Homo sapiens: one gene and its partner. The protein of the gene in region 2 interacts with the protein of the main gene of each other region in a biochemical or structural test. Each region holds a gene or a part of one and is shown on either strand. Other genes may lie near its edges.

Region 1 (3,500 bases), on a different chromosome or scaffold from region 2:
TCACTAAGGCTTCTTTAACAATTTCTATAATTTCCTATAATGTCATTTATATAGCATCTTAGCACTTTTCACATAGTTTAAATTCAAACTATGATATCTATATGTGTTCATTTATTTACCCGAAATTTACATTTTTTATCATATTTCATGTGTCTAATTATTTAATACAATTTTATTCTCTTTTTTGTTTAATCTGGTGAGCAGGAATTACTAAATTCACCTGGCAGGTCTAATCCTGTGGCTATAATCAGAAGATCACTGAAAATTTTCTGGAAACCAAACTATTCTTTTGTGTTATAGTCACTGTTTCCCCTTATAATTGCTTAAAAAACAAACACACACACACTTTTTTTCAAGGGGTTATATTTTCTGAGTGCCTTTTAGTTTTTAAATGGATAACTTGAAGATATTATAAAATCAGTGACTTAAAGTAAAAACAAACAAACCAAAAAACCTATACACCAGTACTAAGTTACCTTAGTTCAGAAAACTAGCTCCCTAGCTCCCAGGAGGTAGCCAGACAGGCCAGGAAGCACACACAGGTGGGTCTGAGGCATTCAGTCCTGGAATGGTCTGCTCAGTCTTGCAAGGTAATCATTAGATATGCAGAGTCCTTTCAGGCTGTATATTAGTTACATTTTATTTTATTTTATTTTATTGATTTATTGATTTTTTTTTGAGGCAGGGTCTTATTCTGTCGCCCAGACTGAAGTGCGGTGGTGTGATCACTGCTCCCTGCATCCTTGACCTCCTGGGCTCAAGCAGTCCTCCTGCCTCAGCCTCCCAAGTAGCTGGGACCACAAGCATGTACTACCATGCCCGGCTAATTTTTTTTTTTTTTTTTTTCATAGAAACTGGGTCTCCCTATGTTGCCCAGGCTAGGCTCAAGTGATCCTCCCACCTCAGCCTCAGGCGTGAGCCATCAGGCCCGGCCTAAGTTATATTTTTACATTGTTTTGGAAACACATTAGAAAAAAATATTTGCTGCATATGTGACAAAGGGTTAATACGTGATACTGTTTCTGTTTATGGATTTCAAAATCCATCTATCTAGGTGAACTATGTAGATTTACCAATACTTGACCATTTTGACCATGAAAAGTATCAGTAATATGGCTTAACCTAACATAAATATAAGAGATATATGAAAGGGCATATAAAAAATATTAACAGTGGCTTTCCACTAGATGCTGGAATATAGATGCTTTTTATTTTTTTCTTATATTTTCTCATTTTTCTGCAGTGACTTGTTTCGGACTCAACATTGTAAAGGTAGATGATGCCTAAATAAAATTAGTACCACTACTATCTATTTTGGATCATAATACATTTTATTTTAGAAAATAATTTTGTATTATACCATAATTGATTAATATCTGCCTTTTAATGGAGATATATTATTAATTATTTTCCATCTCTCCTTGGAAGTAAGAGCATATAACATATATACTTTTTCTTATCTTTAAAGAGGTTAATAGTCAGCTATGTGTACAAGAGTCTAATGACCTTTGGAGGCTATCAAGATGATTTTATGGTAGTCATTAACAATACACATTCAAAGGACAAACCAACAGAGAAATTACTTTTTGCCATGGCAAAACCCAAGGTGAGTAGAAGCCTTTCTGCCAACTTTTTTGTCCTAGTTGTTTTCACTTAGTCTTAGCCAGAAGGCCAAAAAGCAATGCTAATTGTTTTCATATTAAAACATTTATTCAGCAAAGACTGCATTCCAGATGGGAAAACAGACGTTATTTATAGTCAAACAAACATGGGTCCAACTTACATCATCTTTCCAAGCTCTGGTTTCTTTGTCTAAAAATATGGTAACATACTCCCTACTTCTTTTGGCTTAAAAATTAAATGAAGGAAGTTTGTAGGGTACTTAGCCCAATGCCAGGTATATAGAAGATTCAAAATAAATAGTTGTGGCATTAAGTTATTGCTGCCTGGTACTTTATACACATTATCTTATTCACTTGAGGTTATTTGCTTTATGGACTCATTAGAGGAAAGACTGGGATTTTATAATTAAAACATACTTGCTCCTTTACGACTTTTAACAAACTGTGTAGTTTTAACATCTCTAAGTAAAAGCAATAAATAAATGGATTACATTCTAACATGTAATTCTAATTGAAAGTGATTTTCCTACAACTTTAGCTGTCTTAATGTTATCAGATAAAAGAAATTACTTCTTCGGAATCTGAAGCTTTTTTTACAAAATAGATGTCTTTCTTAATTAAGCCTATACTTAAGTGAAAGCAGCTAACCATTAAGTGCAGATCAGGGAGCTCAGTCTTTAGTGAAAATAGAGAGTTCTTATGACACTAACTTTCTTAATTCATATATTCACTAATGTGGCTTTATGATAATTTGATAGAGTTCTACTACTGACTGTCACATTTCCTAAGAATGCCACTCAATTTGATTGTTTTTGAGATTCACTCTTTCTGCTGGTTTAAGTAATGAAAAAACGTGTGGCTGCCTTGATGGTGCTGGACATGTAAGCACTTCATTGTTTGATCTAGAGAGAAGGGAATTCTGGTAGCCTGGGCACTTGCAAATGGAGCTCACCTGTGGCCAACACTTTACTCTCTTCTGGAAGTGATGAGAACTTCTAAGGAGCAAAACAATTCTGTTTTCCTTGTTTTAGATTCTTGAAATCACTCTTTTGATCGCCAGTTACATAAACAACTTCCATCAGCAAAAGGCAGCATTTCACCACCTCTCTGCTCCAGCACTGCTCTCAGCCCAGACCCGGGGACCCCAAGCCAGAATGATGGGAAGCCAGCCTCTTCTGTCAAGCAGCAGACCGACCAAAGGCCCCACCTTACTCTGAAAGCTGGGGAGCCTGAACATTCACTCCTTGTCCTCCATGCTGTGGCTGTATCAGCTCCCTACAAGTTCGTTTACACCTGGCAGCACGGCAGCCACACACCGGTATTCCAAACCTTAACAATGAAGGGGGTTAGTCTCTTTTATTTGATTCTTAAATATTCAAATAAATATTAACAGTAAAACATAAACACAAAATTTGCCAACACACTAATTTTCTTATAGAGTAAATGAGTAAGAATTCATCATTTTTTCCATCTCCCTTCTCCCTTGTCATCAGACACATTGTGCAATGTGGCTTTTCTTTTCTTTTCTTTTTTTCCCCTTTTTAATATTCTGGCAATCTTTAGAAAGGGAGATTCCAAACTCCCATTTGGTAAACCAGTTGATTATTTGGAAATGTTCACTGCCAAAATAGTAAGTGCTATAACTAAATGCGCTTTTAATTAATGATATAGTGTTTGGAAAGGAGTAGAACATGCAGCATAAGAAACTGCTGCAGAGTGGTGCGAGGAGTACATTTTCAGAGCAGGTGCAGTACATCTTCCGGCTCTATGAATCATTATGTGAGAAAGCAGGATAACATTAGGTAACCTGAGCCTCCTGTGTGGTATTAGAAAGTATACCGTCACCTTTTCACATCACTGGAGTGTAAAATTTAAAAC
Region 2 (3,500 bases):
AATTGTGGGGCCACAGACATTTAAGTTGGCATTGCTTTTCTCCTCCTCTGCTTAATCCACCTTTATAAATATGGCAGATGGCTTAAGACAGGCATCATCAGCATCTCTGGAGATGTGGGCTCAAAGGGCAAGTGGGGGCGTGGGGGTTTCCACTAGAGGGAGGGAAGTTTCTGTTTCCCATGTGTTAGTTGTAGTTGTCTTTGTGCTTCACCAGAAAAGAGGTAGAGTGCGCACCTTCACACTAAGAGCCCGAAATTGTGGTCAGTACCATACCAGGAACGACTGTCTGGCCTTGGCATCTATCAGATTCGAATCAGTTCTAACACAGCCCTACCCAACTCTTTGAAGGTTTCTCTCTCTATCTAGTGTGAGACCACTGTTGAGCTTATCTCTGGTTTGGTGGCTTGGTCACCCCACTGTGGGGCCCATACAGAAGTAGTTCACTCAATACCTTGTTAGTAAGTTGCAGACTCATCTGGTCACTGGCAAAGAACAACATCAGAAAAAAAAAAATCGCCACCATTTAATAATAGGCGGTGGGGGGCGGAGGCGGGTATGGTGTTGACAATGTAAAAGAAGTATACTAATGCCTTCTCTGTTTGGTCCTTTAAGAGGAGCTGTTCAGCTCAGAACACACCCTGCACATCCTGCCAAGGCACAAAGTGACAAGGCCATCTAACCTACAAGAAGCAAAAAATGATGGTATGTTTTCAAGGATCACAGGTTAATATAAGCACTTCACACCCTCACATGCTAATGAAAAACATTCTACTGACCTCTGGCAAAGAGTCTGAGAACCCCAGCCCGAATCTCCTGTATTGGAAGAATGTGACTTCATGGAAGAGTTATGAGATGGTTAATGTCTCTAAAGCAACAAGGACAGATGATTCCCCTGTGCCAAGGGATACAGCAAGAGGAAGGAGAGACCACAGGTGGCCTCCAGTACACCCGTGGCCCTTGGGCGCATGGCTCTGTGCGAGTCAGACGTGGTCCAGCTGTGCTCTGGCAGGCTACTTTGTCACCCTGCCAACTGATACTCACTCCTGGGCCTTCAAAGGTTCAATGAGCATCTAACAAATTATACAATTGTAAAGATTATCAGCTTGGAAGCCTGAACAAATCTATAATGAAATGAAGGACCCAAAGGCATTTAATTATTGAACACATAAAAGGAAGTATATTTAAAAAAAATTGGTCAAACTGTCCTGTTAGTTATCATTTTAAAGGAATTTACAGGGCTGTTATAGATGATTCTTTTGGAATATTTCAGTTTATAGCAAATGCCTAAACTGGTTTCTTCATTGCACAGTATTTTCTCTTAAAATGGGTGCTTTAAAACAATTACATACAGATTAAAAATCATTTCTTTGCTTAATTAAAACGTTAATACTCTTAGACAACACAGATCTGAAATGGTGAAACCAGCAATTCCCCCCACCCCACCTTACAACAAATTAAATTGAGACAAAATTACAAACACATTTCACTACATGATTATTATTAATAAAAATCAGTTTCTTTTTTTTTATAAAGTTGCCCAAAATGCAAGGGATGTGCATAGGTTTACAACTTAGTCATAATAGCATTTTATTCTTATTCCCCTGGGTGTGCCCCATGAACGGAATGTAGAATGTACTTTGCTGTAGATTACAGATTGTTTTGTCCAACACAGACACACCGACAGCATAAACGCTCGCGACTGTCCACATGCATTAAGAGTCAAGACCCAACTTCAAATCTCTAAAAGGTTTACAGGGTGCTTCAAAGAGACAGTATCACATTATCTGGATGTTACATAAAGGACTTAAAAAAAAATACTATTCTAAAAAAAAAAAAAGAGAGAAAAAAGGCCTTTAAAAATTTATGACTGTTTTGTAATCACTACACTAATTATTTCAAATAAATAAAGGAAAGAAAGATATCCCAATATTCCAATCCATAAAATCAGACTCTAAAAAGAATGTAGTGTTCCACCCCCAGTCAAGGTAACAGAATCATTGTTTATTATTATTAAAATAGATTATAGAAAGCAGCATCTATTTTGTGCAGTTTTTAGGGGCCTTGGAAATAAAAAGCTATGATTTCCAAAAATATAACATTCCAAAGGATTGAATAATACATACATTTAAAGATACATTTTATTAAAGTTTAGGAGAACTGATTAAAAAAGATACTGTCTCTTTAAATTAGTGTGTAATTGTTTTTCTCCTCCTATCTATTCGGACATGACAATAATTATAAATGTAGGTCACACTACAACTAGGTAGTCTCTAGGGACCATGACCTGCTGACACAAGGCCGATAACAAAGAGGCTTTTCCACAAATGAGGTGCTCCCAGTTATGCTCAGATATCTGGGGAGAGGCCTAATAGACCCAGGAGACAGGGACCCACTGTGGGGCTGTGCACACGAGCTCAACAGCTTCCTCCAGATGTCTGATTGTCTCATCAATTTCATTGTTGATAATTGTGAGATCGAAGTAGTGTGCATATGTTCTCTGTAAGATGTCAGACTCCTTCTGCAGACGCTGAAGAGATTCATCCTAAATGGTGATGAGATGGAGGTAGGGGTGGGCATGAGAGGAGGGAAAAGCAAACAGAAGAGAGAAATCAGTTGGATTCGTTCTCTTTTCACATTTTTGTTCATCCCAGTGTCAGAAACAGTCAAGGCCAGACCCTGATATGCCATATGCCAGCATGAGGCCAAGTCCGCTCCATGACAGAGGAGACAGTGATTGCTCAACATGCAACAGAGGGTCCATGACAAAGCAGACGAACCAGAGAAAACAGATACTCTTCAGGAAACATGCCACCCCCACTCAGGCCTAGCTGTGCCTGTCCCCAGAGTCAGGCTTGGTAGGGCCATGCCAGGTGTGGGTTACAGTGGCTATGGTGGCCCAAACAGGCCAGCAGGAAGCCCCCCGCCCTAGCCTCAAGCCACTCTCCCAATTGGCGAGAGGGCTACGGTGGCAAGGCTGGAGCTCTTTGCCCCCGTCCCCTTGGTCCTCCACACTCACTGGAGCCAGGCCTCAGGGCCCAGCTGTGTTTGCACCAACAAGTCCCTGCCCTTGGATGACAAATTAAGTTGTATTTTTTCCTCTTCTACTTAAAGGTGCCACACGTTCTAGGAATTCAATTACATATAATGGCCCTCACTCAATAGCAGCTGATGCCAGAGGCAAAAGATCTTTGAGTGTTACAAATAATGGCTGGAATAAGGCTGTTTCCCCAATAAACAGCACCTGGCATCTGATGAATCCCCCCAAATTGGTCTGCATTAGAAGTGGCTAGACAAATGTCACTGTTCGTAGGTCCTCATATCTCTTATGAAAAAAACAGAAGGAAGAGAACTCTAGGGAGTACTGAACTCTAGGGAGGTTTGCTGCAACAAAGGATGTTCCCTAAGCTGCAGCTTGCCACAGATTTTAAGAACTCTTGTAAGAGGGATCCAACAGGAGGAGGGAGTTTAGGGTCCCAGCTTTGTCATGCAAGTATAGCTTC

What was found. The genes of interacting proteins can lie anywhere in the genome.
Region 1: the proteins of CASK (region 2) and PLEKHH2 interact in a test that uses a peptide from one of them, tested with the Homo sapiens proteins (one large-scale study listed by IntAct).

The regions. Positions count from the first base shown.
Region 1 is NC_000002.12:43,762,760-43,766,259, forward strand, and holds part of PLEKHH2 (pleckstrin homology domain-containing family H member 2), read left to right. Parts: intron 1-1,468; coding exon 1,469-1,606; intron 1,607-2,653; coding exon 2,654-2,839; 3' UTR 2,840-3,500. UniProt on the Homo sapiens protein: In the kidney glomerulus may play a role in linking podocyte foot processes to the glomerular basement membrane. May be involved in stabilization of F-actin by attenuating its depolymerization. Can recruit TGFB1I1 from focal adhesions to podocyte lamellipodia.
Region 2 is NC_000023.11:41,518,055-41,521,554, forward strand, and holds part of CASK (peripheral plasma membrane protein CASK), read right to left. Parts: intron 2,543-3,500; coding exon 2,366-2,542; 3' UTR 1-2,365. UniProt on the Homo sapiens protein: Multidomain scaffolding Mg(2+)-independent protein kinase that catalyzes the phosphotransfer from ATP to proteins such as NRXN1, and plays a role in synaptic transmembrane protein anchoring and ion channel trafficking.